Regions from separate parts of the Homo sapiens genome. Here region 2 is linked to region 1. The links come from fine-mapping of genetic effects on plasma protein levels. A gene starts in region 1. The other region holds a variant in brackets. All regions are shown on one strand. Distances are between the middles of the regions. Region 1 holds the start of UNC5C (unc-5 netrin receptor C). Region 2 has its middle 56 kb from the start of UNC5C-AS1.

Region 1 (16,052 bases):
ATTTTTAAGCTTTATTCTTTCATCATCTTACAGAGGAGATCCAGAAGGAAAAAGGAAAGTTGCTAAATAAAATGACAGGCACCATAATCAATGTTTCATTTAGAATGACTTCAAGATTGCTGCTTGCTAAACTTGAGCACTTCCACTGGGCGGCTACAATGTGTATATTTGCCAAACACTTTATTCAATGAGATAAAATATATCATTTTCCCTTAATCAAAAACGAAATTCAAATGTCAATGTATTTCACATAGACATACAGTTCAAAGTGAAATTACCATTATTTACTTTGTATTTCCAATCATAAAGTTTTTGTTGTGGTAATAATTTGGTTACTTGTTTGATTTTGATTAGTAATAATACAGATCTCCAAAAATCATGTATAATAACATAGTGCTCTTTTCACTGACTATCATTTTTAGTTTCTATAAAAGTTATGGAATACCACTGGCTAAAATATAATCTTTGATCTAGTTCTTCAAAGGGTTTTTAAGGCCATATGAAATTCCAAAAAGATATTAGAATTATTTAAAATATTGAATTTGAATACAAGTAACAAATATGCAAATTCATAGAGAATAGAAGAGTCCCAAATTGCTCCTTTTACCTTTAGTAAAGGTAAAGTAGTCCCCCTGCTTATCTGCAGTTCACTTTCTGCAGTTTCAATTACCTGAGGTCAACTGTGGTCCAAAAACATTAAATGGAAAATTTCAGAAACAAACAATTCGTAAGTTTTAAACTGCATGGAGCTCTGAGTAGCGTGACAAAATCTCTCAGACATGAATCACTCCTTCATCCAATGTACCCATGCTGTATAGACTCCCCACCTGGTAGTCACTTAGTAGTTATCTCGGTTATCAGATGAAAAAAAAGCAGTGTAGATGGGAGTTCCATACTATCTGTAGTTTCAGGCATCCATTGGGGGTCTTGGAAAGTATCTCCTGCATTTAAGGAAGGACTGCTGCACATGAATTTCTTTTACTTGTAATTATAAGTGGATACTTTTATATCACGTACCCCATTAGATTGCACTAAACTTCTATTATCTAAGAGAATGTATTTTATGAATTAATTTAAAATGATCACTTTTATCTACAAATGCTGTGCTTTACTTCTGTACTACATATTTATATTTTATATTATTATATACTCTAAGTTTTTTTAATTTTGAGAAAACCTGCATTTCTATTTATGGATATATTTCTATTTATGGATATATCCCTTACAACTGGACTGTAGATGCATTTTAATAAACAAGCACTATTCTGTTTTTATTGGAAAGAAATATCCACATATAAGGTGGTTCTTCTGAACAGAAATAAAAAGAGAGAAAACAATAAATAAGAATAGAGTTCAGGCAGTCCATGATTAAATAATCAATTAAGAGATTGACTAAAACTGAGAAATACTAGCATGCATCAATGAACTTGTTAAGTGTGCTGAGGGAGTTTCTGTTGTTTCACATCGTCAGTTAGAAGAGGATATAATCCATGGTCATCTACATGAGGCATTTTTATAGCTCTCATAATTGCTGAGAAATGAAACTAGCCACAGGATCCACATGACAACATGATTAATGAAGATAAAACCCCCTATCCTCACAACATTTTAAAATAAGTAAGACTGGTAACTCTGGTGTTAAATCTGAGTAATCAATATCATCTGTTAATATGATTATTGTGAGCCCTGGTATTTAAAATAAGAACTCTAACAGGCATATCTATATAATGAAGTTTCACCCGGCTCCCCTCACGCTCACATTCCACTACCACGTTGGCAATAAGATGTGTTTAGTTATTTAACTAAAAGAGGGTATTCACCAAACATGGGGATTTTCAGATGTTATACTTCACTTTTGCCACACAAGGCACTTTTGAATCACTGCTCATTGCTAATAAAAGCTATACTGACCTAAGGACAAATATCTGCATATTTGGCACTTTCAAAGCTATAGCTCACTTTCTAAATTGTAACTTCAACTTAATTAATGTCATGGCAACTTTAACACTATGTACTCCATGTAGAAGGGGAGGTATGTTTTAAATACTTATAAAATCTGGAAACATTCTTCTGTGTATTTCAAAATCTCATTATATATGAGCAACATTTTGGGGAGCAGCAATGCTCAAAACAAAAAACCACAGTACAACTTCAACACAAAACTATTTTTTTAATTCTGAAATTTCAGCTCAATATTTTCAAACATATTGTTCATAAAGAGTCCAAATATCTGCAACATGATATATGTTTTGGGTTTTCATGAAAAGGCAGAAATTCTTCTGGTGGCTCCATACAGGTAGACAGGATAAAAAAAAAAGTTTTCTATTTCTGATCTTGTTAGCTCATAAAAGTGTTCCTATAAAATGTTTTTATTAAAATCTCTGTAAGTTTGAAAATAACAAATATTTAAAATAAGAGAAACTATAAATTATCCCATTACTAAGTTTCTTTTTTTAAAACTAGAAAAAAGGGAAACACTAGTGTTTGAATATCGCTCAAGGCAAACTTACTCTACTTCAAAGTAGCATTAAAAAACAGCACCAAGTTTCTGTGAGTAAAACATCCTTGAGCTAAGAGATACTGGAATAATACCAAAGGTCTCATATTCATGTAGCCCTCCTCCACAAATACATAAGCAATAACAAATCCAAGTAAGAAATGAAACCAAAGAAGCATCCATACATAGGTTTAAGAAATCAGGTTAAAAAAGAAAGAGTGCAGAACCAGAACCAATAATAGAAGCAGAATGACAATTTTGTAGGAGAAAAATCTAAACCGTAAGTAATATAAAATGCCCTACAAATCTCTTATTTTATCTCAAAAGTCTGACAGAAAACATTTGCTCCAAACATGCAAAGAATGGCAATAACCATTAAACAATAAGAGTTAGATGCAAATATTTCACCAAAATATATGTCATCTAGATTATCTGTGCTGTTTTAAATTAGGATAACGAAACTTCCTATTGCAAATATAGTTTGAATAAATGAAAGTTCTGGTGAATTTTCTTTGCCTTCGTGTTGACCTATTTTTATGTTTATTTTGTTTGAACAGAAAACCAATTATGTTCTTTAGAGTATATACTTGTGTCCATTTTCTTTTAAAGAAAAACTGTCCACATTCACATAAAGGTCTGATTTTCCCCAAACCCTTATCAGAAATCCTGGGGTGTACCTTTTTTCTGTAATAGTGTTCATGGATTTATGAAAAGTTATCTTTCAGTATCCCTTGAGAAAATAGAAAGTCAAGGACGAGCTTCTTGCAAGGACTTAACTGGGAGTGACTTAACGTGTCATTTTTAGAACTAATATTAGGTTAATTTTCCCAGAGAGAACAGAAGGGAAGAAAAGAGACTGTGGAAGGGAATGAGATTCCCACAGGCTGTTCAGAGAACTGTACTCTGTCCAGGAGTTTACAATGATCTACTCCGCAGCATCTCTTCAGATAGCTCCATTTCTTGCTTTTGGGGAAGCAGTGTCAGCAGCTATCATCACTCTGAGTTCAAAATTATTGACCTTTAGTTTCTTTTACATCTAGATTTCTTTGCCAACGGTTTGTAGAATTGAAAGTCAAGGAATAATACTTATTTTCTATGAGCTAAAAGCTGCTCTAATTGTAACCTGTAGTATATATTATCCTCATTTTTACATATGAGGAAACTAAGGCACGGAAACGTTAAATGTCTTGCTCATAGTCACACAGCTGGAGGTGCTGGAAGCAGTATTAGGAAACATTGGTAATCACTATGTTAACTGACAGAATGGGCATACACCATTAACAGCTCTTAGCCTGTGCCTCCCCAGAGCCAGATGAAACTTGCATTAAATCTAAGTAAAATGCTGTTGCAACGCAAACTTAGCTTCAAGAACATACAACTTCCAGCCAAATCACTGCTCCCACGTTCTTCTGTGTAGAAATTTTAGAACCCCCCACCCACCACTCACATTAGAATCCTAGCTTCACCTATGTTTACTATCTTCGGATGTCTGAATCCAGAAAGTACTATACCTGTGTCCGCTTTTATACTTAAGAAAGTGAATTATAATTCCATGGTTCTACTTCTGTCTTCCTGTAGGGCTTAAACTGCCTGGTTACATTCCGTTTCTAACAAATAGCATTCAGCCTAGGATGCAATATGAGTGCACAATAATTGCTTAAGAACTTTACTTCTAATACCATACTCTATCCATAGAAGCCATTGTTTCTAATTTGTGAGGAAATGTGAACAGGTTTGTTTTTAACTGCCACAAATATAAAAGTCAAACTAAAAAAATATGTAGGCTAAAACTTCAAGGCAATAGCACTGGCTCAATCTCAACCCCCACAATTTTCCCCATTATCTTCCTAAAGTGGTTGCAGCCTGTAATTTTAATGTTTCTTCTGAGAGTGACTCCCTCTGCTGCTTCTGCAAAGCCATGACCTAAATCAGAAAAGTGTTAAACGCAGTTAAGGCCTAATAGAGCACACTTGCTGTTGGCACTAATTGGAGAACCTAGCATACATTAGAGAACAGTTATGTTTAAGTCTCAACAATAATTCTAAATAAGCTAACAGGGTTTACTTAGCAGAGCTCATGCCTTGTTCATGTCCTTAGGGGGGGTTGCTTAAAATAGACCCATACAAGTTCTGACTAGGACAACCAGCTCCAAACTACAATAGGAGGTGTTCGAGGACCCTGTCTTATTTAACTCTTTACCCTCAGTATCCAGAATACAGGAGTCCAGGGAGTCAATAAATGTCAGTTATAATCTAATGATTCCTAATTCTTTGCAAGTGTTTGAAAAGTTTATTCTTTGAAGATTTTAAGCATTCTCTAAGCTAGAATACACAAAATTATTTTTCTAAACAGAAGTAAACTAGCCTACTTTTCCTTATTGCATATTCCTAATGTGAATTCATAAACTTTCTGTACTCCTACAATGAAAAAGTATACGATAGAATTGTAATGAACTTTAGTTGTCTTCACTGTTGACTGTCTATTTGTACCACACCAATATGCAAACATGCATAAAGGAATTTTTACTCTTTTGTAGGAAGACATATGTTATTTAAAAAAAAAAACTATGAATTAAGATAATAGGGAATTATCCCAATCTAATTAGAGACTTCAGTAATTTTTTGTCCTGAGTTTGGTGGTGTTAACACTCATAACACTAGTTGGAGCTAGATAAGCAGCATATCAATGCTGTGTAGCCCAGATAAAATGCATTTATAAACCAGGAGGGTCCTAATTCAGAAGCACACTGATCTCACACACACGCGCGCGCGCGCACACACACACACACACACACACTGCCTTTTACTAGTAAAATCTTTCATTCTTGGAAGTCACAAACACTACAAATTCCCTGGAGCTAGGAGTTCCCAGCAATCCTGAATGAAACAATTAGGGCATAGCCAGAAAGGAGAAAGTTGTTGCCTACAGCCTAGAGAATTTCCCAAGGACCTATTGAAAATGACTGCTGCCTAAACCACAGTTACAAAACTCAGTACACTCACAAATAATGCCTATTCTATGTTTTATCTTAAATATCTGTTGTTTCCTTGATTATCTCTGAAGATATATATACATACTTCTAATTTTTGCAGTACTTCAGCAACAGAATAAAAACCTCATCCACATTGTAAAGTGCTTAAAGTAACTTTCCCATGTTAATTGCTCTTGGACTTTCATTCATAAGAAATAGTTCATTTGGATCTTTAAGTCATCACCACAAGGAAATCATACCTTGAGGGTATGGGCTAGTGTTCTAGTCCAAGGAAAGGAGAAAGAAGAAGAATAAGAAGGAAAAGGAGGTCTGACTATCAGACCATTTATAAAATGTGTGATTCTGCAAGGAAAGTGTTAACGGTGGCTCAAGATAAACAGGCTGGGTTACTGTACTGCAGTGATGAAGGTAGTAGCTGATAGTGGAGTTTGGTGCTTTATCCTTCCTTTGATAACTAACAGACAACACAGGAAGAGCTGCTATCCCTGGAACATGGAGGATAACAAAGATAAAAGCGGTGGAATAGTGCATTTTACAGACCATGAGATTCAAACAAAAATTTTACTAATCAAAAACTGAAGGAACTAAATAAACGAAATGGACAAGAACTGCAGTGAAATGCATACACCCAACGGAGTACATTTTCTTTTTCCACTTAAGATGAGAATCAGTCCCCAATCTTTAACTTGCCTACGCTACAAAAAGTGCAAGAGAAAAAGTCTATCCTAAGCATCTTTTCTTTTTAATCTCTTCTCCCTTCTTCTTTCAATATTAATCCATTTACAATCTGCTGTTTGATTATCTTTATTGATCCTTTTTCTACCCAGTCTTTTTAATTTGGTTATTGTAAGCTCTTAGCAGGAATCCTATCTCTTGTTTGGCATCTTTGGGGACTTTAACTTGTCTTTTTCCCAAACAGTTCTCTCACCGTGCCCCGTCCCCCTCTCCCGCCACCCACCCCCATGGCTCAGTCCTTTGTATGCCCAGTAACAGCAGGCGAATTCCACAGGGAGTCGCGCGGTTGATTCCACGACTATTCATAAGGTTGTTCACTTAAGCTTCCAAACACCCCCCTCTAAGCACCCTTGGCTAGCGCCCTGAGAACTTCTTATCAATTTTAGGAAATCCACAAGCTATGATTCTCGGTGGAGATTCCTTTTTAAATAGACAGACAGATGAACTCTGGAGGTGTGCATAAGAAAACCAGAGCAGAACCTCAGGGATGGGAGGCATCTGGCGAGAAAGGAAGGAAGGATTTATGAGCAGGGCCACTTAGCAGGGCAGCAGGAAAATTTACTTCCGAAGAAGCTATCGCTAATTCACAAAGCCTTGCTAATCACTTACCTCTCCACCCAGACCGCACTCCTATGCTAGGCGCTCTCCTCCGCTTCCAACACCCCCATCCCCACCCCCAGCGCCTCTCTAAGATCAGAGGGAATGCTGTCCGGAAACCCTAGGGTGTCTGAACATCACCTGGGGAGTTGGGGCTATCGTAAAGCCTCCCTTTACTCTCCAAATTTGGAAGGAAGAGTAACCGAGAGTGAAGGGAGAATCCCTGAATTGCCTCTGAATGCTGCATAAGCTTCCTTCATTCTCTCCTCTTCCAGGAAAAGCTGAGCTGCCTCGCCTGAGCCGGCTATCACCACTGAAGTGGGCTAAGAGACCCAAGTAGGAGCTGGGCTTGGCCAGAAGTTTTGGGGCCCAGGTGACCTGAAAGAGACCCCGGAGGGGACAGCCTTGGCTCTTTCTTCTGCGCTCCCTTCCAGTCAGCTTTCCCGGCTTTGAAGGCTGGGAGCTGCTGCTAACACTTCAAACTAGGCGGACAAGAAGGGAGCCGGGCGATCAGCTCCGGAGCCTCCCCTCCTCCCTTACCCATCCCCAACTCCCGGCCACACTCTTCCCAACCCGGCTTCGCCCAGGGCCCCGGTCACTTATGTTAAAGTTCACAGGCGTTAAATTAAAATGTCAGAGTTATAAACTGGTCGACTACCCCGGGGAGTTTCGGATTTGGTTTGAACAAGCAGCCGGTTCCCCCAGAGCTCCGGGATTTTCATTTCTACATCCCCTGGTGGGAAGCAGGCATGAAGCGGGGTATGTATGAGTGCAGAGGCATGCACATCCCGGGCCTGCCTCCAGCCGGGTACGCGGATTCGGGTGAGCTGTGTATTTCCACAGCACCTGAAGCAGCAGGCGAGGGGGACGGGTGCTTTTGAGTCCTTGACAGTAATGGACACATTTCCTTAGCTGAGCGCCCTTCGGGGTCTAGTGTGCTCAGAGACTCAGTGAAGATCCTGCTACCCCAGTCTTGGCACAGCGCGGGGAGCCTCTGCGCATCATGCGCTTCGGGGTGCATCTACGGTATGTCACACAGCCACCCGCACCGAGAGTCTTTCCAAACCTCCGTGTGTGCAATATGCAACAACGTGCGCGTGCGGAGCTGAAAGGGCACAAGACACTCCAGGCTCCCACACGTATGGAGACGGATCGGCTGCGTGTCCACACCCCGTTCGTCCCTGGTCCATTCGTGCCCATCTCAGAAGATAGATTAAACATAATAATAATAATAATTATTATTATTATAATCAAAGCTTCTTGACTAGTTGGGAAAGTGGAATTTAGAGTGGTTTCCAGTTGAAAGCAACGAGGCAAATTGAGGAAGTCAAGAGAACTGGGGAGGAGGAGAGGAAGGAGGGAAGGAAGAAGCTAAGGGAGGTGGCCGCGGAGCTTGGCGGACCCCCTTACCTTGGGCGGCGGAGCCAGTGCCGCTGGCGCTGAGCAGGGCCAGGGCAGGTAGCACGAGCATTTGCAGCAAGTATCCCAGTCCCAGTCCGCAGCGGGCCGCTGTCGCCCGCAGACCTTTCCTCATCGTAGACAGAGGTGTGCCGGGGGGAGGGGAGGGGGACAGAGAGACGCGCAAACAGCTGAAAGCCCCACTGGGCAGAAGCTGAATCCGTGCACCGCGAAGCAGTCCGAAGAAATAACGACAACCAAGCGCCACACTCCACTTTCTCCAAAGGCAGGGGCCAAAAGGGGGAGGAGAGGAGACGCCGAGGAGGAGTTTGAAGGTCCCTCTTTCCCAATGCCTTCTAACTGACGTCTCCCGCGAGCGACTGCTCTGCCCCCACTTGGGAAGTCCAGGGAGGCGCAAGGCGGCCACCTCCGCCGCTCCCCCCAGCAGCAGGAGCAGCCGCAGCTCCGCCGCACGCCGAAGTCTGGACTGCTCTCCGGGTCCCCTCGCCTGTGAGGAACACACACAGACACCGGGGGTGGGGGTGGGGGTGGGGGTTGAAGTGGGGGGAGTTGGAGGAGGAGGGAACGGAGGGAGGAAGCTTGGGCACCGTCAGGCGCTCTGGTCTCCAATCTCAGTGTTCTCACGCCGGCGGAGAGATGTCCCGGCTGTCGCTGCTGGGTGGCCAAGGAGGTTCACATCCTAGAGTAGGGCGCACGGGTGCGCGAAGGCGCTCGCCAAGGAGGCGTAGAGGGCGCAGCACAACTCCTCTGGGGGGTAACCGGGGGCGGGAGCACGCCCGCCCGCCTTATGTAAGCAAGGATTGCAGGGAGATCAGCGCCCAGGAGACCAGCTGTGGGTTTGCCCGCTGAAGCCGAGGCGAGACAGACCAGGGGACGAAGCGGCTGCGGAGAGTGGCAGCGCGCCTGCCTCCCGCGGTGCGCCAGACCTGGACGCCGGGAGTGCAGCGGGCGCGCCCCGGGCCACTAGGCTGTGTCCAGTGGAGCTCAGCCTGCCGCCTGCCACCTTCTTCGCCGCGCCGGCAAAGCCTCAGCCGAATTCCCTAGGACTGGACTCGGTCTACGACTTCGGGTCTCGCGGTTGACGAAGCCGGTGCGGGCTCGAACTGAAGTCCTTCTTGGTTGGGGAAGAAGGCATGAAGCTTTTGCACTGCCCCAGCCGGCTGCTGTCCTGGGGTTGTCAGCGCCAGTCAGACTGCTTTATGTTCTGAGCGCGTATGACCCCTTTGCAGTGGAACAGAAACTAAAAGCTCGACGGAAACTCATTCTGCAACAGTGCTTTCTTTGCGTGCATGTTGGTGGCTGACAAGGGTGGTGATGCGATACCGAGAGAAACTCTCTTAGAAAAAAAAAATGCAAAGCAAAATTTGTAGATACTCAAAGTGATGGTGGAGCCTATAACATGTTTTTCAAATTTCTAATAGTGTGTGTAAGAACTCGAGCTGCTATGAATTTGTTTACCTTTCTACAGGAAATAATTGTCTACGTAGCTGGGTTGTGAATCCCTGTGGTCATGATGGAGGGATGCAAGATTGGGTGGGTAAAATAAGACTAGACAAAAGGAAAGTGAATTTATTAAAAGGTCAACACACAGACACAGACAACATTTTGGGAAAAAGAAAATCACTTCCCAAGATTAGCATGTCTTTAAACTAATAATACATCAGGGAATTTTATGCTCTTGGTGCCAAGGGGGCCATGTGTAAACACGCATGCACACACACACGCAGGAAACATGAGGTCTAATTTTGGCTGTGGTCATAACTACTCTGTTACCCTGGGTAAGTCAGGTAACCTGTGAATGTCTCAGTTTCTTCATTTGTGAAATATTTTGATAGTTTCAAAGTTCTCTTAAGTTCTAACATTCTATGATTCTGCCTGCACAGCCCCATCTAGGCAATAAGACCTATCTCGGATGAATCAGGGAGATCCGAAAAGGTAGTATTTGCCAAAGACATTGACAAAACTGGCCACTTCTTATTTCTGTGGAGACTCTGTCCACCACACAAAACCCTTCTTCACTCTCTTCATCTTCTCCATACCAAGACATCAAGATATTTGACAACAGGGTGGGTGCTGGCACCAGACTGTCTGCCTTCAGTTCTTAGCATTTCTTATTACTTGACTGATATTGAACATTAAAGCTAGGTGCCTCTCTTCCCTAATTTGTAAGATGGGTCTAGTAACAGGAACTATCTCATAGGGTTATTTGAGGATTATGTAAGTTAAACATATGTAAAATGCCTGACGCCAAAATTGTAAACTGCTGTTCTTACCATTGATGAAAAATTCCCATTAGCCTCATGCTATCTACACCAGTGCTGTTCAGCAGAAATTTCTGCAATGAAGAACATGTTCATATCTGTACTTTCTGAGGTCGTAGTTATGAGATACATGTGGCTACTTGCATGCAATGTGGCTAGTGTGAATTGGAAATTTTTATTTAATTTTAATTTAAATAGTCACATGTGGCCAGCAGCTACCATATTTTATGGTGTATCGAGGCCACTAATAACTTGTCAAGTATTTTGAGAATGACTTCACAAGGGATTATTATTATACTTTATATTTATATGTACAATTTTACTAAGAAGGACAACAGCTTAAGTACTAAGAAATCTCCACACATACTCACCATCACATCAACGACATCCAAAAGTTATTTATTTACAATTTTATTGCCTGTCTTCTTAAATTAGAATTTAACTCTTTTAAGACAGAGATTTTGCCTTTGTTCATTATTTCAACCACAGCTCCTAAACTGAGCCTGATATATAGTTGGTACTCAATCAATATTGACTGATTTCCTGCCAAAAAAGCTCAATGGGGAAGACTCCTCAAAGTCTAGGACAGCTAAAGAAGGTTGAAATTGTCGCCTACTCCTGTTTGGGGTATTGAGGTACTCAGTGACAGATACCACATGCAATTAGTTCCTTAAAATAAAGAATACGAGATTAAAAGAGGAAATGTAGTTAAATACTGAAATTCAGCCTAAAGATGGCAGGAGAATGGTTTGAGAAGTGGTATAGAGTAATGAGGTGGAAAAGGGGGAAGAGAGTGAGAGCACCACACAAAGGACAGGAAAAACACCAGCAATACATCAGCTTTACACAGCAGGCAAGTTTCCTGCTCTCTACAAGTACAGATGGAACTTGTCTTGTGAATTAACATCCTGACTACTTTTGTTGATCATCACATTTTTTCCTCATGAGAGAAATAATAGTGTTTTATAGGCTCCTGAGAATAGGTTTACTAAAGTCATCGAGATCTGGGTTCAAATGACACTGCTTAGGGAGGCATTCACTGATCAAGTTACCTAAAATAGCAACAATCTATCATCCAAAATATCATTTGCCAGCTTTGATTTTGCATATAACACTTACTTTATATATGTACATATATGTGTATATATATATTTGTGTGTGTGTGTGTGTATACATGTATATATATATGCAGTCTGCAATAAAATGTATGCTTCTCAGGGGAGAAATTTTTTTCTAATACATTCAGTGCTCTATACCCAGAACCTGGAACAATACCTTGTACATAATAGGTGATCAATAAATACTTACTGAATATTGAATGGATTGAATCAGAACCAATGGATTTAAAATTGAGCTAAGTCCTTCATTAAACCTTCTTCCTCTCCTCTTCAGCCTCTCAAGTTATCAAATTATGAGTAGGCTTTTCTAGTTGTTGAATAAAATCAAGTTTTGCCAAATTTTCACCAAAAATTTATTGGAATTTGACTTTTTAGGGTTGGAATACTGCAGGTGTTTAAGGAACAGACAGGAAATTCATCTCATCTTGAAAAATGAAAAGCTTCATTTAAATCCATATACAAGGGCTTTCTTTTTCTTGGCTGCAGTGAGTGGAGAATTAACTCTAGGATAATAAATCCCAGTGACAGGTGCTAATGGGAATTAAGCATGCAAATCCCCTGCATATCCCTCCAGAAATCTACACCAAGAAAAGTATGCTATTTAGCATGTAGGCTGCTTCATAATAATATCATTTACTCGGAACTAGTACTGAAAAAGTTTCCAGTTTAAAGCTTAAATCAAAAACAATTGATCATATATTTTAATTATGGAAATATTTTCTTTCATTGTATCTCTCTCCTTATATGTTTGATTCCTCACTTTTTATATTTTTTGTGTAGGTTTAAAAATAAATCTTCATACCAGGGATATTATTAACTGCATTAACTGGCAACATAGGAGAAAGAGGATTTTAGTGAATAAATAGGATGGTGATGAGGAAAACTCCTTTCCTACAAGTTGGGAGTTCAGAGACCTCACATAATGTTACTGATAGACATCAACGAAGGAGAGCCAGATGGTCTAGATTCAGTTGATTCAATCCTCCTTCCCTGCCTTAGCCCAGAGAAAGAGATTTAACTTGTCATAAACCAAAACTCTCTAGGGCTTTCTGCTTTTTATTAATTCTATTAGATAAGACCCATTTGGTTGCAAGTGAAAGAAACCCAACTCGAACCAGCTTAAGCAAAAAGATAATTTATCACTGTGCATAACTCAAAAACTATGGATAAGAAATATCTATTTAATAATAGATACCATTTACTATCACTCACTGTGTGTCAGGCACTTTCTAAGCTCTTTACATGTGCTATCTCATTTAATCATCATAACTGAATGAAAGTGCCATTATTATCTCCGTTTCATAAATGAGGAAACAGAGTGGTTATGTAACTTTGCCCAAGGTCACACACAGTTAGTATTTACTAGCGACAGTCTGATTTGAGGGATGATGTCTTAGACCCATGAATTTAAATATCACTCATGGGACTTAGTACTTCCCCCCACCCTCAATATCTTGGTTATGCTCTCCTCTGTTTTGGTTTCATTCACAGACTTATGATCTCCATCCTGGGATTCCCAGCAGCTCCAGGTTTACATTGTCTTTATCATTGTCAATCTCAACACAAAGCACACTCGTTTCCAAATGGCAAAAAATAAATACAGAATTATGGCCCTGGCCTATCTTGGGCCACATACTCACAACTGAGGCAATTACCATGGCCAGATGTTTGGCATATACTGAATGGCAAGGCCTGGTCATGTGCCAATATTTGCCAACTGGAAACTTGGATTGAAAATGGGGATAAGGGGTTCTCCAAAAGGATACAATAGAAAATGATTAATACAAAAAAAAAAAAAGATGCCAAAGAGAATGGATGTAGGGCAGACAAAATAACAAATCCCTATTCTGTGGTATATGAGGCAAGATGAGTTCTCCAGGCTTTTGTGCAACAACACATCACTGTAGCAAAAGAAGAGCACTAGTTAAGAAAGGCTGAAGAGCAGCCAGCCCCCTGTGGATTGCTTTTCCCATTAACTGACTGGAAGAATTAAATCCAATTCAATTCAGAAAACTTTCACTTCCCCCCTGTTATATTGTGGTTCCACTCTAGGATCCCTAGGGAAAAATATGCATGAGGTATAGTCCTTGTGTAGCAATGGCTCAGAATCTTACAGGCAATATAAATGAATAAACAAAAGGATTTTAAATAAACACAAAAATGTTGTGGGAATATAAGGATATGGGAGCCTGAGAAGAAGATTTACCTAAAAGTAAGACACACACTTGTGTATCAGCAATACTGTTCTTCACACAATGGGTGTATTTATCTCTAACGATAAGGAACCTGGGAGTAGACAGTACATGGCCACTGTGGAAGCTCAGTTATGCTCTTTTCATGTCTTGGCTCCATGCTCCAGAATGTACAGCTTTCATTCTCACAGTTGCTTGATAGCTTTTCCACCTCCAGGAGTCATGTTTCACTTTTCAGGCAGAAGAAGGTGGAACAGTCCTGAGGGGCTGCATCTAGCCTAGATGCCTTCCAAATAACTTTTCTGGAAGCCCTCAGCCCAAGTAGTTTCCATTTCCTTGACGGTCTGTCAAATAGCCCCCTAAGATCAATCACAAATGGTGGATAAGGAGAAGGGTGTTGTGCATGTTGGCCAGATCATCTGAGTTGGACACAACTCTGTTGGAGAGGAGCAACAAGGGGAAGGCACAGAAAGAAAGACATTAAGACAGGGCATTTGAGGGTGTATTTGAAGAATTACAGGTAAATGAAAAATAGTTCTATAGTTGGTTGAGAAAAAAAGGAGAAAAGGGAGGAAAGTGTTTTCTTTTTTCTTTTTTCTTTTTTTAGAGATGGAGTCTTGCTATGTTGCCCAGGCTGGAGTTCACTGGCTATTCACAGGTGCAATTATAGGGCACGACAGCCTTGAACTCCTGGCCTCAAGTGATCCTCTTGCCTCAGTCTCTGGAGTCTCCAAAACAGGGGAAGGGTGAGTGTGTTTTCTATCACATTGGGAAATAGAAAGATGGAAAGGACTCCATTATTCAGTTCACTAAAGTGTATTTACTGAACTTTTGGAAATTGTGTAGCATTGAGGTAGAGTTTCATGGAGTTTATAGTTGGACTGTAGAAATAATATTTATAAAAAAGAAGCAAAGCAAAAAATAAAGAAAGATACCAGGAAAGATGGAGAAAAAAGAAAGGAAAGGGAGAAAAGAAGAAAGGATGCAGGGGACAAAGGAAGAAAGGGAAAGAAGAAAGACAAAAAGAAGAAATAAAGGAAGAGATAAATAAAATCCAGTGTGATTTCTGCATTGGTGTAGCATGTTGTAACTGCTATTAGAGGGAGCAAACAATGAAAAGGTCAATAAAAACTTAAGGAAAATAATAGAATATCTAATTTAGAAGAGTATTACTGGGGATAGAGATTATAATTATTGCTTACCAGAGCTTTTCTAATATCTCATTTTATTTTAAATTTATCTGCCAAGTTAGACCATAGTCGTTTTTCTCATTTTACAGATGGAAGAAATAAAATACATAATGGAATGGTGGGAAGACTCCGGATCAGGAAACATGAATTTAAGTCTCCATTTATCTAAGTTATTTGCTCAGAAATCCCTGTAAGTTCTTTGCACGTATTTGTTATAAGAAATGATAACAATATGAATGCACAAAGTTCCTGTGACTATAAAATCTGTGTGAAAGTGCTTTGTAATATGTCTATACTGAAGATGTCATTATGGTAAGATATGCTTTACATTGTCTATTGTACTTAATTTACATAATCATCTGAAGAATAGTATTAGTGATGTGGCTTTCTATACATGAATGATACCACCCTAGTATAACCTCTGGAGCTATTCTCAGTATCTCCCTCCTTTGCCCACATCACCTATTCAATTACTATTTTATAAGTCCATTCAATTTCACTACTTAAAGGGCTACAGGATCTATCCCATTATCACCAGCCCTACAGACTCACAATATATTTGCTTGTTACCGAGAGGTCTTGTAATTATTTCCTTAGTAGCTAGTTTGCCTTTACATTCTAATCCATGCTCTCCACACCTCCCAGAAAGACCTTCTAAAATGTAAAACCTGTCATTTTACTGTCCTAAAATCTTATTCAATGATTCCTCACTGCCCCAGACCTGCTTTTCCAAAGACCATTACAGGGAACTCCTGTCCTTAAAAAAGCAGTTCTAGAATGAACAGAGGATGATAGGTTGCAGTATTCTTTATTCTTTACTCCTTTCCAGTTAATAGAATTACCCGATTATTTCCTTTGCACTATGCCTTGCAGGACCACCCACTGCACTGTGGGTCGTACTGGCTTCCTCTCTCACTGATGGTAGCTTAGCCATGGGACTTGCTTTGGCCAGTGATCTTGGGCAGGTGCTACAGTGTGCCAGTTGCTCCCATTGCATACCTCTACTCATTTTCATGTGCTCTCACCATTAGTCCTAAGGCATTAGAACATT
Region 2 (16,052 bases), 56 kb after region 1:
ATGGACGTAAAGAGAGGTCAATAGACACTAGGAAATACAAAACGGAGGAGGAAAGAAGGGGACACAGGCAGAAAAACTAACGAGTGGGTACTGTGCTTGCTATCTGGGTGACAGTTTCTGTTATACCGCAGACCTCAGCATTACACCATATCCCTCTGTAACAATCCTGCACGTGTACCCCTTGATCCTAAAATAAAAGCTGAGAAAGAAAAAGAAAAAAAAAAGCTATGTTGTAATATAGTTGGTGGTTCTATTTCTTTCATCAAAGTTTCTCACTAAAGACCAGTTTGTTTATCCTTTTATTTGTTCATTCATTTTTTCCTTCCTTCTTTCTTTTCTCTGTCCTTCCTTCCCTCCCTTCGTGTTGAACCTTAGGAAAATGAAAGCTATATAAAAAGATTCCCACAGCTGTTTTGAAATTTTGACAGGTATAAGGGACCTTTTAGGAAGCTACTCACTTTAACGCATGCCAGGGATGTGGACCAGGAAAGTATAGAGATTTGAAAATGAAGGAGACCCTGAGAGATAACATGCCCTTATTTTCCTTCAATTGTTCGTTCCCTTCACAGCCTGTCTTTGCTATCACATGTATGCATGAATCCTGAGGCATCTACCATGCACGATAAATACTTTCCTTGATTTTCCACATGTTGTTGGTCCTTCAGTTATGTTCAGTGAAGGCAGACTGCCTTCATTGTTTTATTAGTTTATCCAACTTTCTAAGGGATCTCATAAAGTCATCAAAAAACTTGTATTAACAAGTCTCATGTGAAGGCATGAAATAGTGCTTGCTGTTTGTCACATGTTGCAGAGCTATGTGCGCCAGTCATTCCTTCATTCTTAAGGAACACTTTCTTCTTGAAAGTAATACCAGACAATGTAGAAAACATCACACTGTGGCTTGACTTGTTGGTGCTGCCTAGCTCTCCTGGCAGTGTGGCCCTTGAGAGCCTGATTCCTTGAAATGACCTTAGGGCACGAGAGGATTAGGATCAATTCTCCTTCTCTCGCTAAGAGTCTGCTGGGGATTACACCTGAGTATAGAAGTGCCACACTCTTTAAAAAAACTCAAAGGTTACCATGGTTAAATACTATTGGGCTGCTGGGTGCCAGAATTTTCAAAGCAGATTCATCTAAAAAATCAATATGGACACAAGACATTTATTGCATTATTCCATTATACATCCATACCTCAAACATTTAACATGTTGTCAAGAATAATACTTTGAGCTCTTAAACCTTAACTAAATGTAAAAGCAGGGATCCACAGAAAATTAAATCTCCAGTGAACCAATACATCAAATTTATTATTTTTGTTCCTAGTTATTCCAATGACTCCATGAAAAGGAACCTATTCAAAACACATGCCCAATAATAGAAGCATTGTTAGAAGAGTCACTAAAAGTACAAAAGCATCAATTAAAAGGGAGGTCCTAGTTGATTTAACAGCAACAACTAAAAGGAGGTAAAGGACTTATAGAAGATTGCTTTAGGGAATATATTGATTTTAAATATGATAGTTCATTCCTGACAATTTCTGCCTTTCATGAAATAGGTCACAGGACGTTGGTATGATTTAGAATAAGGTAATGAAGTGACAGTAATAAAAAAAGTTTGATGTTCTAAAGGCAGCGTGAGTTGTGAAATCTGACTACTAGTAATATTGTTTTATAAGGAATTAAAGTAGGTGAGTACCTAAAGCGAATGCTGTGTAGGAACCCATATACTAGATAAGTGCATATTTTGCCTGCATTGGTCATTAAATTCATGTTTAAATAATACCAAAATGCATAGATAAAGAACAAAACATACTCTCATCTAGAGTTTAGGCTTTTAAAGCCTCTCTATTCAAAACAGATACTTTTCTGGTATCTAATGTTTAATATAGGCATGGACTATGTTAGAAGAGCAATGCAAACATAAAAGAAAAAATATTAAGATATAAAAGTGTGCACTGCATCATGCTTTATATTAACTATCCACTAGGCTATATTTAATTATTAAAGTTCACTCTATAGATTTATCTAAATATTTGAGCTGCACAGAACTTTTTTCCAATATTTTCTTCTTTAAATAATATTGAAAAATATGTCCTGTCAACTAGATAGAATTTTTAAGACATTTTCATGGCCCACTTTCACTGTATAATTAAATATTTTTATTTAAGGAAAACATTATTAGATGCTCCTCCCTCACCCTAAAGATCTAAATTCCAGTATTTAAAATTATTTAATATTATTTAGCCACTCATATATGTCAGGCACTCTACTAGAAGTAAATGTGTGACGTGTTAAATATGTACATTCATACATACATATGCAAGAATATGCAAAAATATATTCAATAAAAATATACTCAGTTGATAAGATTGCCATCTTCATTGAATTTTTAAGAAGAAAATTGCAGGAAAATTAGTAGGTATCAGAAAATTGGATTTTTCAGCATCTCTATTTTAAGTTGAAAATGACCTTTTAAATAGAAGATCCAGTATCAATATATTATATTCAGCCTGATTTTCTACAACTTTTACTTATACACACTTATTTTAATTAAATTTGACACCTGCACTAAACTTTTAGAATATTGAAAGCTATCAAAATACTCTTTTTCTGAATATGGCAACTAAGAGAGAGACACTGTAGTCCTATAAGTCTTATCCACATGAAAAAATATATTGCAGTATGATGAAAGGAGATAAGAATATTATATTACAAATTTGAGCACAATCTTTAAGAATAGCAGTATTGCTACAGTGGGTTGAAAAAAATAAAAAGAAATTTCCCTTTGTGGGTAATAAGACCATGTTTATTCTGTGAAGCAGTATTAATATTTTGATAAGGGCAAGATTTAATATTAAACTTTAGATGACCAAGAACTTGTATCAAGCATTATCCTTTTTTGAACAGCATATTACTCTTGCCAAAGATAATTTCGTTTTTGATTTGGGGATGCTCAGGACTCTTGAGAAAGTGAAGATACATGGAACTGATGATACAAGTCTGTGAGGCCAAAGCTCTCTATTGTGAAAGATAGCTAATTAATAACCTTACTATTGATTAAAATAAAACATGTCAAAATTATCTCTATCAGTCAGTTTACTGTGATCATCATTTGTATATAAAATACTCTTCATGGCATACATGCAGAAGTCCACTTGCCCGATCGCCTAGGAAGGCACTAGAAGGTGCATCCTTTTGGTCACCTACTCATGCCATCCCTTCTCCAGTGTAGATTGTATACAGTAACAATTAGGAGATGACATGGGAGTCTGACAAGGAAAGATTATGAGATTATGTCACTTTGAAATTTGTTTTCTACTATTTTACCACATTAATGACTCATAGCGTTAGAATGAATTCAGTTTTAAGAAAGTCGTTTGAGGATATTCAGAAGTAGGTTTATAAATGTAAGAGGAACTTAGAATTTCTTTGCTTTCTCATGATTTTTAATTTGTTGTTTTGGTTTCCTTTCTTCAGTATGAGCCGTCATACTGAAACCCAAGCTCGATCATCTCTACTTCCAGGAGGTGGGAGGAGATCTTTTCGTTTGAATTGTGAAACTGGTTGCCTTTCAGAGACAAGCTATCTGTGTATGTGGAGAGGAAGAATATATAAATAAGTAAGATAAACAAAATAGAGTATTTCCATGACAACTCTACAGAACCAAAACTGTATAATGAATCCTTAGATTTCCTTACACTTTACATACTTGAGAAAATTGAAACAAATGATAAACCATGTTAATTTTTAAATATAAAGGCAGAACTAGGTTTATGCGATAAAGACTTAATTACGTCAAATTCGCCCACATCCCCTACCCTCCATGTCATCCCACTTCGGCTTCTCCAAATACTTCTGATATTTGTTTTGTTTTTCATCTCAAACATCAGTCCACCTTTAAGTGTTCCATGGAATTTTTTTCCACACTTGTGTTGAGTTGTTTTAAAGAGTTAAGCTATGTGCGTTGTATGGTTTTGTCCATTTGATTCCTAAAAAGTGTTTTGAGGTTGATAGTATCCTGTTTTATCAATGAGGAAACCAAGTCTTAGAGGGATTAGATTACTTGCCTAAGCTCATGCCATCAGGAATTGTTGCAGCCAAGTATTGACCATAAGTCAGTCAGACTTTAAAACTTATACTCCTATAAGTACAGAAACTTTTAAAATTTAATTCTCTGGACTTGTCTAAGAGAAGATCATGTTACTTCATGACAGCATTCAGATTAGTCACTTCTTTTCTCTATAAGTGCTTTCTAAGTACTGTAGGTAAACTCGCTGTAGGAAAGAAAATTATTAAGAGCCTGGAAAGCTCAGATTTAAGTCCTGCCTGAGCAGATTATGTAGTCTCAAGGTTTCAGTTTGCTCATCAATGTGGGGGTAATAATATTCACCTCATGGGTCATTGTGAGGATTAAGCGTAATGTCCCATGTAATTGTACCTGGCACATAATAAGGAAGAGTTTTAAAAATGAATTAGTATGCTATTGCTACAGTCCTGGACTAGATAGGAAAAATGAGCGGATAGAGAGTTTAAAATCTAATTGAGGAGATGAGCAACCAATATGTGGGTAATTTTAGGACAGTTGTAATACTTGTTTAAAATTATGCCAATGAATTATATATGTATGTGTACGTATATGTGATGTACACACACAGACACATGCATGCGTGCGCATGCACCTGCCTGAATTAGGACTAAGAATAACAAAGTAATAGGAGGGATATATGGTATGTATAGAAATATTTCCTGGAGCAGGTGCATTTCAGTATGTTAAAGTGATGAATAGTGCTTGAGTTTAAGGGGTGAGAGAGGATAGGCAGGAAACTACACATGAGAAGAAACCACTAAAGAGGAACTAGAGTGCCCAACTGAAAAAGAATCTTGAGATGTTTCCAATTTATGTATCCTTCAAATAAAATAATGGAAAATATTCTTGGTGCTTTTCAGATTCCAGGCATCGTTCTAAGAACTTTCTGCTAACTCAGTTCTCACAACTGTATGAAAGAAGTGCTATCCGTGTTTCCTTTTTTACAGGTAGGAAACCGGGGCCCAGAGATGCTGATCACTTTGCCTAGGTTCACAAATCTAGTGAGCAGCATATCCAGGATTGCAAATTCAGGATGCTAAACCCAGAATCTAAGGGGCTTGTAGAGAAGCACTTAGCACATGTTGGGAGGGGTGCATGGGGAGGGAAATAACCCCTGGAGGAATGCACTAGGGAGCATGGCTTAACATTAAAGAGCTGAGACTGGTGCCACTTCTTACGTCAATTGAGGGTCAAGCCCAAATGCTTCCCGTTCAATTCCTAAGAATCAGAGGACCTAAAATTTATCTTTGAGGTATAAACCATGCAGAGGTTGACTGGAAATTTGGCTTCCAGGAAGGGATAAGTGAGTTGGATTAAAGGACTAAGTTCCATCTTTGTAACAAGCACTCACATAGAATAAGGCAGTGACAAGGGGATGTGCACTAAATGTAAGTCACAGTATAGAAGTCCAAACAACTGGGGTTAGGATGAAGCTTGGGAAGGAATTTAGAGAGGAAGGAGAATATTTTACCTAATATTTAGTAATGATATACAGATGAAAGTTTGGGGGAAATAGAAAGGAAAGAAGGGAGAATAGAGAAACAAGACATCATTCTGCAATCCCTGAAGTTTTCAGCCTGAGTAGCAGGTGTAGTGGAAGTGCTATCAATATTAAACAAAATTAGGAAGGTATAGAAATTAATGTGAAACAGAGGAAATTCAGTTTTCATAACGTTGTGATGGGGGAAATTTCATCTTGTCTATGAAATACATTTCCCTCTGAACAATTTTAATATAAGAGTTAAATATTTCCAAATACAAATTATTGAGTTACTTATTAACAAAATATAATTAATGAAAATTCTTGAAAGAGTATGAGAAAAAGACATTGAGTTTATTTTATGTGGGGAAAAAAGGTTCAGGGGTGATACAATGCTTATACACAAGTTGTGTGTGTGTGTGTGTGTGTGTGTGTGTGTGTGTTTAATTGTATCATCTCCAAAAAATAAAAATTAGAGGGAAAAGAGATATTAAATACTAGATCTGGCTTTTATGACAAGTGGCCTTTCTATATGTACATCACTGAAAATGGAATTTGTATCAGGCTGGAATATTTGAATAAATTTCAATCAGCATGACCTGTCATATTCTCTTTTTAAGTTTTGTGGCTCGATTTCATTGAGTTCACTGTTGTCATCAGCTCATATCCACAACATAAAGCATCTGCGTCACAAAGTTTGAGTTTGGAGAGCCCAGAGGCTTCCAAAATTCATGGAAATAAGTTCCAGAAGGCTTTGACCTTTGGGAAGTCCCAGGCTGTCTTATCTCCACTCCACGTGGAGTGGCCTTTCATTGAAGGAGGCAACAAGTGGTAGTAAGACTCTAAAACTTGCAAAATCAATGGAGAAAGCTACATGAAATGACATCTTCAGATTTACTTGTGATTGGCACCTGATCCCTATTTGAGAATCAAAAGGTTGTCATAAAGTCCATGTTTTATTACTTTCTTCTTTTATATCAGGCAACCCCCAAATGGTTATCATAAAGCCCCATCTTTGCCCTCAGTAGTAACCAAGGCAGACAGGCAGGCAGCTACAGGGTTGACCTATATAGGTTTGGTGGAAAGTAGGGCCCTTGGGTCCCACCTCTCTGGCCAACAATCTATAACTGATTTTCACTGAGTTTTATTTAGTTATCTAAAGGAAAATCCAGTTTATATCTTGGTTGGAGAATTGGATTTCCTTGTTCGATGGCTGTATTTTTATGGGTATAATCTTAAGTGGCCAAATCTTGAAGGGTGACAGCTGTGGTTAGGTTAGTAGTGAGCCGCCTGAGGATATTAGAGTTCAACTTGTACAAAGAGCCAAAATCAACTCTTAAAAATATTCAGCTTTCTCATAAGATTTGCTGGAGGCTGTTCTCCCCAGAACTCTTAAACTTGGATATCACCAATGATCTACAGATTATTATAGCTCGGAGCCGTGCTGAATTTTATCATAGACTGATGTTTAGTTGTTCTGATATTAGATGATCCTCATATGTCTTAATATTTATGCAGTTATACTCCCCAAGTTAAAATGAGTGGACTATAGTACAACTACATGATTTTTAAAGGTGCTTCTTAATTATATTTTCTCTTCTACTTCTATTTACCATTCACAATTTGGAAGATGAACATTGACCCAAACTGGAGAATAAAAACTGCAACAGAATTTTAGTTTAATAGGGGCAGGGATTTTAAGCCTGCTTGTACATGGCTGTATCACCAGTAGAACAGTTAAGTGCCTGGGAATTCACAGGAAAGCAATACAATTTGTTAAATAGTTCTTTTTGATTCAAATGCAAACTTTTGAATAAAAACACTGGAAATTATATACATACCAGAAAATCCATACACAAATGCACATGGCTCTTTTGATACATTCAACATGTTCTAAATGACTGCAATGATTATGTAACCATTGCTATTTACTACAGAAATATAATTACTGTGTTACTACCTTTAATGCTCCATATATCACCGCCTTTCTAGAGGAGTTTCACAGAAGTCTGGATTCTTGGTTTTATATTGGTTCATGTTTCGTATCCCTGAGAACAACAAGAATGTCCTGCCCTTTTTCTTGCTCTTTTACTAACTCCAAATATAGTTTCAAATACCTTTCTAAACTACCTGGTTTAATTTAAGAAAGGATACTACAGGAGAGTAAAATTAGAGTGTAGGTGAAATGAAATCTGCGCATGGCTGGCCTCTTTAGATATAATTTACTGATGATTAGATGAGATTATACAGAACTATTTGGCTGCAATGGTAGACAGGAAAAAGAAATGGAAAATTCTTTAAGGTGATGAACTTGTGTTGACATTTACAAATGACCTGCGCATAGCTCTGTACTTTCTTTTTTTTAAGACGGAGTCTAGCTCTTTCACCCAGGCTGGAGTGCAGCGGTGCAATCTCGGCTCACTGCAACCTCCACCTCCCGGGTTCAAGTGATTCTCCTGCCTCAGCCTCCCGAGTAGCTGGGGTTATAGGCACGCACCACCATGCCTGGTTAATTTTTGTATTTTTAGTAAAGATGGGGTTTCATTATGTTGGCCAGGCTGCTCTCGAACTCCTGACCTCAGATGATCCACCTGCCTCGGCCTCCCAAAGTGCTGGTATTACAGGTGTGAGCCAACGCACCTGGCTTGTATTTTCTTTTTTAGTATTGCTCCAGTATGATTGGTTGATTAAAGCATTAGACACACACACACACACGTGTGTGTATGTATATATAAGTTATGCCGCTGAATTTAACATTTTAATGCTAGAAGCTGATTCCCAGTCCATGTGTTTAACTTACAGCACTGTACAGAGTTTTAGGTGTCATCCATTTATACTATAAAGGAGCATTTCTTGTGCATTAGTTGGCCTCTTATTGGCTTCCAAGGATTAATATGATTTATAAATAAAATGTATAAGGAGAGCCTTTATGGGAATTGAGGCTCTACTTATACATTTGAATGTGGTGAAAATGATTTTCTGCTTTTTTTTTTCTTTTTTGTTCTTTCCTCCATCTGGAAAGTGGCCTAGAAGAGTGCAGGTCTTTATGGCCTCTCTGTCAGCTTTACTGGAGTCCACTTCCAGCTACCTGAAAAGAGAAAGAAATTCCTAACCTGGTCCCCAACCATAAGGAGTCAAGGCTCCAGAATGACAACAGAGCCCTACTTTTTGAACTTGATGGAGTTAGGGCTGTCCGTTCTCCTTCTTCTTTGTCATAGATAGCTTGAGAAGTGCATATTTCTCCATTTTGAAAATCATGTGTCTTTTAACATCACTGTGAGACTATTCCTTCCCCTTCTTTTTCCTGGTAACATCCTTTGAATTTTTCCTTTGGTTGTGCCTGTATCTTTTTTCCTGAATAATATAAAAGTTTGTTTGGCTCTAGTCATGCAAATAAAAGTTTCCTACCCATGTCTAAACATAAAATGTTAATAGCGAAAGCAGTTCCCAAAACTTTGTTTCATACAAAATTAAGCTAATTTTGCCAGGTGAGTGACAAAGGTATCCGAGCTCAATTTGACGTTTCTCCCATTTCAATGTGCACCTCATCTAAATCGCTTAGAGTCACTTAGAGGGCAAAACTGAGTGATAGATTTATCAGTTCTTTATGCCATCCATTTTTGCAACCTTTAAGAATATAATAAATTTAAAAATTACTTTATGTTTGGCATTCTCTAAAAAAAAGAAAAATTGTTTCCTTTCTCTTTTCTTTCAGAGTAAAAGACAATGCCCTCGGGGTGGGGGTAGGGGAAACTCAAGGGCTTAAATCTCTTACCTAATAAGTCATTGAAAGCAAATGGCCTTTTAAATGTATTTGCCTTTTTATCTGTGGCTGACAACCCACCTCACTGGGTCACTACCCACTAGCTCCTGGTTTTTATGCTAACAGCGTTCTTCCATGAAATGGAAAAAGGTAGAAAAAGCAAAAACAAACAAACAAAAAAAAAAAAACACACCAAAATAATACAGGTAACTTTTTTTATTTTTTGAGAGTGAGTCTTGCTCTGTCGCCCAGGCTGGAGTGCAGTGGCGCATTCTTGGCTCACTGTAAGCTCCGCCTCCGGGGTTCA[T/C]GCCATTCTCCTGCCTCAGCCTCCCGAGTAGCTGGGACTACAGGCACCCGCCACCGCGCCCGGCTAATTTTTTTGTTATTTTTAATAGAGACGGGGTTTCACCATGTTAGCCAGGTTGGTCTCGATCTCCTGACCTCGTGATCTGCCTGCCTCGGCCTCCCAAAATGCTGGGATTATAAGCGTGAGCCACCGCGCCCAGCCACATGTTTTTTTTTTAACTGCTATGTTAAAAGAAATACCTTCTCTCACTCTTCACAAAAGGGAACACACGCATAAGTTAAAAAAAATGCTCTTTTAAAATGGGAGGAATTATACCTAAAATAGAAACAGAAAATAACTAAGCATTGTGGGCTAGCAAACTTTGGTTTTGTTATTCAAAGACCAGATACTTCTCTGCAGATTTGAACACCAAGAATTCTTTAGTTGTGTGATTTTTATGGCATATGTATTATTTAATATGCCAATGTACGTCCTGGGCCCATGGGAAAGGAGGAAATGGAGAATGCACATGTTCACACAAACGTGGGTGAGCACCCCGACGGCCAGCCAGGCCACATGGTGGTTAGGAACCACAGGCTCACAGGAGAGTGGCTTTCACAATGTGAGCAATGGAACTCTGTTTCCAAATAGAAACTTCTTTTATTTTTTAACTCTGCAGTTTCTGAGTACTGAATGGTCTCTTATTACCTTTTTCGAGTAAACTATAGACACTCTAAGTGAGAATTCCTATTATCCCGAAGAAAGAGATTAAATACGTGCACTTTTACATAACATGGTTTAGAAACAAAATTTTAGCTTGACACTGATGTAGGTGCCTAGAGTACAAGCATAAAGAACAGAAGCCCAGGTATCTTTTTGCTCCTGAAAGGTGCTTCTGGTTGCATGAGACAAGTGTTCTATATTGGCATTTACTCATCTGTGTTGAATATTATTGATTTCCTATTGTTTTTCTCACTCTTTTCGCCCCTGGTTCTAGTAATTGTTTGTATGTGTGTGTTTCTGTGCAAGTGATGTTTCCTACTTTGGTCTTTCATTTGCTAATTCGAATATTTCCCATCATAAATTGGTATGATTTGGCTCTGTGTCCCCACCCAAAATCTCATCCCGAATTGTAATCCCCACATGTTGAGGGATGGACCTGGTGAGAGGTGATCGAATTATGGGGGTAGTTTCTCCCATGCTGTTCTCATGATAGTGAGTGAGTTTTTATGAGATCTGATGGTTTAAAAGTGTGGTACTTCCTCTGCAATCTTTCTCCGTCTACTGCTGCCCTGAGAAGGTGTGCCTTGCTTCCATTTTACCTTCTGCCATGATTTTAAGTTAATTTCCTGAGGCCTCCCCAGCCATGTGGAACTGTGAGTCAATTAAACCTCTTTCCTTTAAAAATTAATCAGTCCCTGGTTATTCTTCACAGCAGTGTGAAAATGGACTAATACACAAATGAAGTCCAAAGTCGATCTTGAAGATTGGTTGTGAAAAATCTAATAGTAGAAACTAAATACTTTGCTTTTGCATTTGGAATATAAAGGAACATTTCTCTAGGGGGAGTGGAGAATGGGGAGTTATTGTTTAATGAGTAAAGAGTTTCATTTTGAAATAGTGAAAAAGTTGAAAAAGTTCTAGAGATGGAAAGTGGTAATGATTGTACAACAATGTGAATGTTTATAATGCCACTAGGCTGTACACTTAAAAATTGATAAAATGGGCGGGGCGCGGTGACTCACACCTGTAATCCCAGCACTTTGGGAGGCCGAGGCTGGAGGATCATGAGGTCAGGAGATCAAGACCATCTGGGCTAACACAGTGAAACCCCATCTCTACTAAAAATACAAAAAATTAGCCGGGCAAGGTGGCGGGCACCTGTAGTCCCAGCTACTTGGGAGGCTGAGGCAGGAGAATGGTGTGAACCCGGGAGGCGGAGCTTGTAGTGAGCTGAGATCATGCCACCGCACTCCAGCCTGGGCAACAGAGCAAGACTCTGTCTCAAAAAAAAAAAAAAAATTGATAAAACAGTAAATTTTATATGCATTATGTATATTTTATCACAATTTTAAAATAGCCCATTTCTAAAGTCTCTTTCTATATTTGAAATAATTTTTGGTATAGAATAAATATAAGTATAAATATTCTGCCAGGATAATAGAAAGGAAAATTGTATTAATAAATTTGACTAGCACTATGTTTTGTTAGAGATATTCTCATGCTCTCAAAATGATGATCACCACTTTCCAGAAATACCACCCAATAAACATAGTTAATCATCAAGAACCTTTGTTTTTTCCCTTGTTCAATTTACCAACAGCATGAATATAATTCTCTTCATTTTCTAACAGGCAGTCCAGAGTTACATTTGTTAGTTGTGAATCATGGATTTGATATGGGTAGTTCTCTTTTATATTTCTGTTGCTTTAATTACTAATTATAACATACATTAAATAATATGTCTTATTTCATCTCATCAATTTAAGTTGATAATTAAATGATATTTGTACTGTTTTATGTTTTTATTAGTAACTAAAGCATCATTAAGTATTTTTAATATCTCACTTGTGTATTTTGCATGTCATCTATTCACTTTTATTGTTAGCTTTCTACACCTTTTTTTTTTTTTTAGGTGAGTATCACTATGTTGCCCAGGCTGGCTACCAACTCCTGGGCTCAAGTGAGCATCCTACTTTGGCCTCTCGAGTAGCTGGCATTACTTGTTAGCATATGTAAAGCATAAGAAGATCAACTCTTTGCAGATTTTCTGTTTTTTTTTTTCTTTTCTTTTTAGGATCTTTTGTTGAGCTCCATTCAAACATATTTTATTTCTAGAATGAAATTATGATTATGCAATCAACATAATCTAAGGTTTTATGAAATAAAGTGTAATTACAGTTAAAGAGTTCAAAATGGAATATATTTTCATCAAAAATGTATACTAAACATAATATGTCAAAAATTAAAATTATATTTCATCTATGTGTTGGTAAATTAAGATGTTTTCCTAATAACACTCAATTACACTAGTTGGGAGACAGTACTCTGAAACAATGTAGTTTATGCTTGAATCAGTGACCAATTCACTGTGTAATTTCTGGGCTTCAGGGGTAGACATGGGAATGGCTCTTCTCACTAATACATTTAATAACTCACCCACAGGATTATTTTTTTTGCTTCCAGTCCTTGCAACTTAAGAGTTACATTGCTTTAGAGCATTAATATTCAAAGGAGTAATGCATGACAGTGGTCATGAGAAGAATTCCGCTGAATTGGACTGCTACATGTATATTGGAATTTTTATGCTATTGAACCAATAGGCAAGAAAGGCTTGGTAAAGGCTCTCTAATGGCTGTGGTAATTATCAAGAAGAAATTGAGATCCTCCTTCATAATGAGGCTGTGGTGGACTATGGCTAGAACCTAGTGGTTTCCCTGGGGTCCCTTTTAATATTTCCATATCTGATAGTAAAATTTAATGAACAGCTACAGCAAGGTAAACAAACAGGTAAGAAACACTAGGGTTTCAGACTCTTTAGGAATGAAGTTTTGGTTCCTCCTGTAAGATAAAGAACCCCAACCAGCCGAGGTTCTCGTTGAGGGCAAAGGTAACATAAAATGGATAATGTAAGAAAAGTAATTAGGGACTCCTGGTCAATTGTATTATAGGCATGAGGGATTTAAACTCTGGGCATCTTTTCCCTTGCTTGTTACATATGCATGCCACTTTATTGCTTTCTTCAAGGATTGTTGTTTAATCTTGCAGTTTAGTCTTTAGGTTACTGAAGATTTACACAGAAATTTCTTTGATTAATTTTTAAGGAGGAAAGACAGTAGAAAGAAGGGCTTGTTTCCCTATGACTTTACTTCCCATTCTTGTTAGAGTCCCTTTGGCAATGTTTCTTTATCCTGACAATGGTTGTTGCTTTCAGTTTCCTGTTTTTGTTTGTTTGGTTTCATATTTCAGAACCAGCCTCATTATGTCCCCAAAGAGATACCAGTATCAGAAAGTTGGCATAGCTTCCTTAGCTACTAGTTCCAGCTGCGTGAGGATGTTTTTCCAGGCCCCTGAGGTACCAGCACTGTCTGGTTAGTATTATTCTTTAAAAGGTTTGGGTCTCAGCTCTGTAGGGCTACACATAAACTTCTAGGTTCTAAAAACCGAATCTTTTCGTTTTGTTCACCCCACTCAAAGAGTGGTAGCTTCTTTCAGCAGTTGCTAACTTTATATTACTCAGTGTTATATTTTTCCCCTTTCAGTCCCCTAAAACCTATTTAACAAATTTCTCATATTAAATTCCTTTTGTAAAGATAACTGGTGTGGATTCTGTTTTCCTGACTGGACCCTGAGTACTGTGCTATTAAATTGAATACAAATAAAAACATATTCTTTGAAAATATTCAAATCATATATTAAAATTAAAAGAAAATACAAATTAAAATTAGTAAATATATTTAAACTGAAAATTATATAAGTAAATGTGATAATTTTATATTTAAAAAATAAAATCTGATTTTAAAAAATTACAATGTTTGAATGTTTGAATTCTAACACTCAAGCCCATCTGGTTATGTGTAGACCTAAGCATATGCATAGTCAAGAGGAATCTGAATTGTCTAATGTTACAAAATGTTTTTCAGCCATCATGTGCAACTATTGTAAATACCACTCAAACTCAAGAGTACCTCTAGGGGCATTATTGGGAACACAAAGCAAAACAATAAAAATCAATGCTTGGCACTAATGAGACTGATACTTTGTTACACTGGAATTCAGTTCTTCATGGTACCTGGGAGAAAAGGTTTGACAAGAAAATTAATTTGTCATTTTTATTCCTGGAGCAATTTCACACACTCAAATCCCTCTCACTAGGAACCATGCTCTTCTCTTACATTTGCAGCAGCACAACCTGCAAGCCTTCATGGCTTTCCTACTCAGTGACCTACTTGAACTCATAGGACCAGAAATGTGGAGAAGCATTTTCTGTGGTGTCTTAATGGTCATATTCTGTTAGTGCTGAGTGTAAGATCAAAGTAAGGAGTTGCCTATGTGTGTTTGAATCCATTTGTGCAAGCACACACATGCACGCATGTGTGTATGATAATGTGGGACCCTATAAAGCATAAGAAACAGAGCAGGAGCCCCTCTTGTCTGCGGCCTGAGGATACTACCTGTTACCCTTAGCATATTGAGGTACTGCAGTGTTTCCTAGGTTTTATTTTTAAGGCTCTATAACTTATGTGATTATTTTCCTGGACTTTGTTTGGTTTGCTTCCTAAGCATTAATCTCTCTTTCCCAAACTCTTCTTTTTTCGTGTTTTATTCTTTCTCCCAGAAGGTTTTATTTCTTTACATTTCCATGATGTAAACAAGGCTAGAAAACTGGTCTTCCAGCTGTCTTTCATTGACCCGTTTTTCAAAGCAGCATCACACATTTGCAGTTTTCACAAAGTTTTTGCTTTGTAATCCACTCAGTATGTAATTCCTGGGATTTATATCTTCCTCAAGGGCTTCCATTGCAATTGATCAGTATGCTCCAGGAATCAAAGCCTCTGAAAACCTCTGATACAGTTATATTCCCATTGGCCCTGGCCTTCAGTAGAGCAGATAATTTTAAAGTTTCACTAGGAACCCCAAGGTCCTTCTTACTATGGAAAAAGAGTTAAAAATCTACCCCTAAAATTATGAAAACTTGAGTTCACTCTTGTCACCTCAATCACATATGCACATCCTGGAAACCCAGTGGATCTGCCCTGTTCAAATTAAGCTCGTGGGCCTCATCAATACGGAGGTCTTCTATTCTCTTTATTTCCACATCATGGAGGCAGCAGGAAGTTAAATAGGATTCCCTGATTCTCAAATATCCAGTTTTAGAAAGTGGACAAAATAGAGTCTTTGAGTTTTTCTGTAAAGCTGAATGTCTTCATCCCACAGACAAGAAGTCCTGGCAGGGAGTGTGGCCTGATCACCAAAAGCTTGTCATGTTATGGTGCCCTTTCCTTCTGCCTTCAACAATCCCAAACATTTATCTTAAAGCCTCACTTCATGTCAGAACTCGGTGGTCCCTACACTCTTCTAGTCCCAGAATTATTTTACATGTATACATTCATTTTATTTAAATATACATGGATACATTTTAAAGGATTTAAAATAATTTTTATTTTCAAACTTTATATTTTATTCCCTTTTTAATTATATACTGAACTTCGAGATTAATAACCTATTCATTATTAATCCTTAATATATCAACATTTTATATGGTAGCTTAGTCAAATAGAATTAAAATATATTAATTAATAAAAAGACTACAAGAGATTAAGTCCATTAAGAAACAGTAACATGAAACTGGGCATACACACTACGCTAGAGCAAACATACATAAATACTTTCCAGGCATTTTACCAAAGTAATTATTTTTTTCTGTATAATATCTA

What was found. PIP is the posterior inclusion probability: the model's chance that the variant is causal. Protein levels are from the aptamer-based SomaScan assay of Sun 2018.
Region 2: its variant is fine-mapped to the plasma level of the UNC5C protein (Sun 2018, PIP 0.95).

What each region holds. Positions count from the first base shown.
Region 1 is chr4:95,540,503-95,556,554 of GRCh38, forward strand. It overlaps UNC5C (unc-5 netrin receptor C), which reads right to left and starts at 8,471. Exons shown (of 16, transcript NM_003728.4): 1 at 8,232-8,471. The coding sequence starts at 8,355. UNC5C-AS1 (UNC5C antisense RNA 1) reads left to right here and starts at 8,646. Exons shown (of 5, transcript NR_183914.1): 1 at 8,646-8,729; 2 at 14,419-14,557; 3 at 15,091-15,191. RefSeq lists an enhancer at 8,913-9,042.
Region 2 is chr4:95,596,745-95,612,796 of GRCh38, forward strand. No RefSeq gene overlaps it. Among named protein-coding and RNA genes, the nearest start is that of UNC5C-AS1, 56 kb to the left of the region's middle. The variant T/C (reference allele first, on the strand shown) is at 9,637.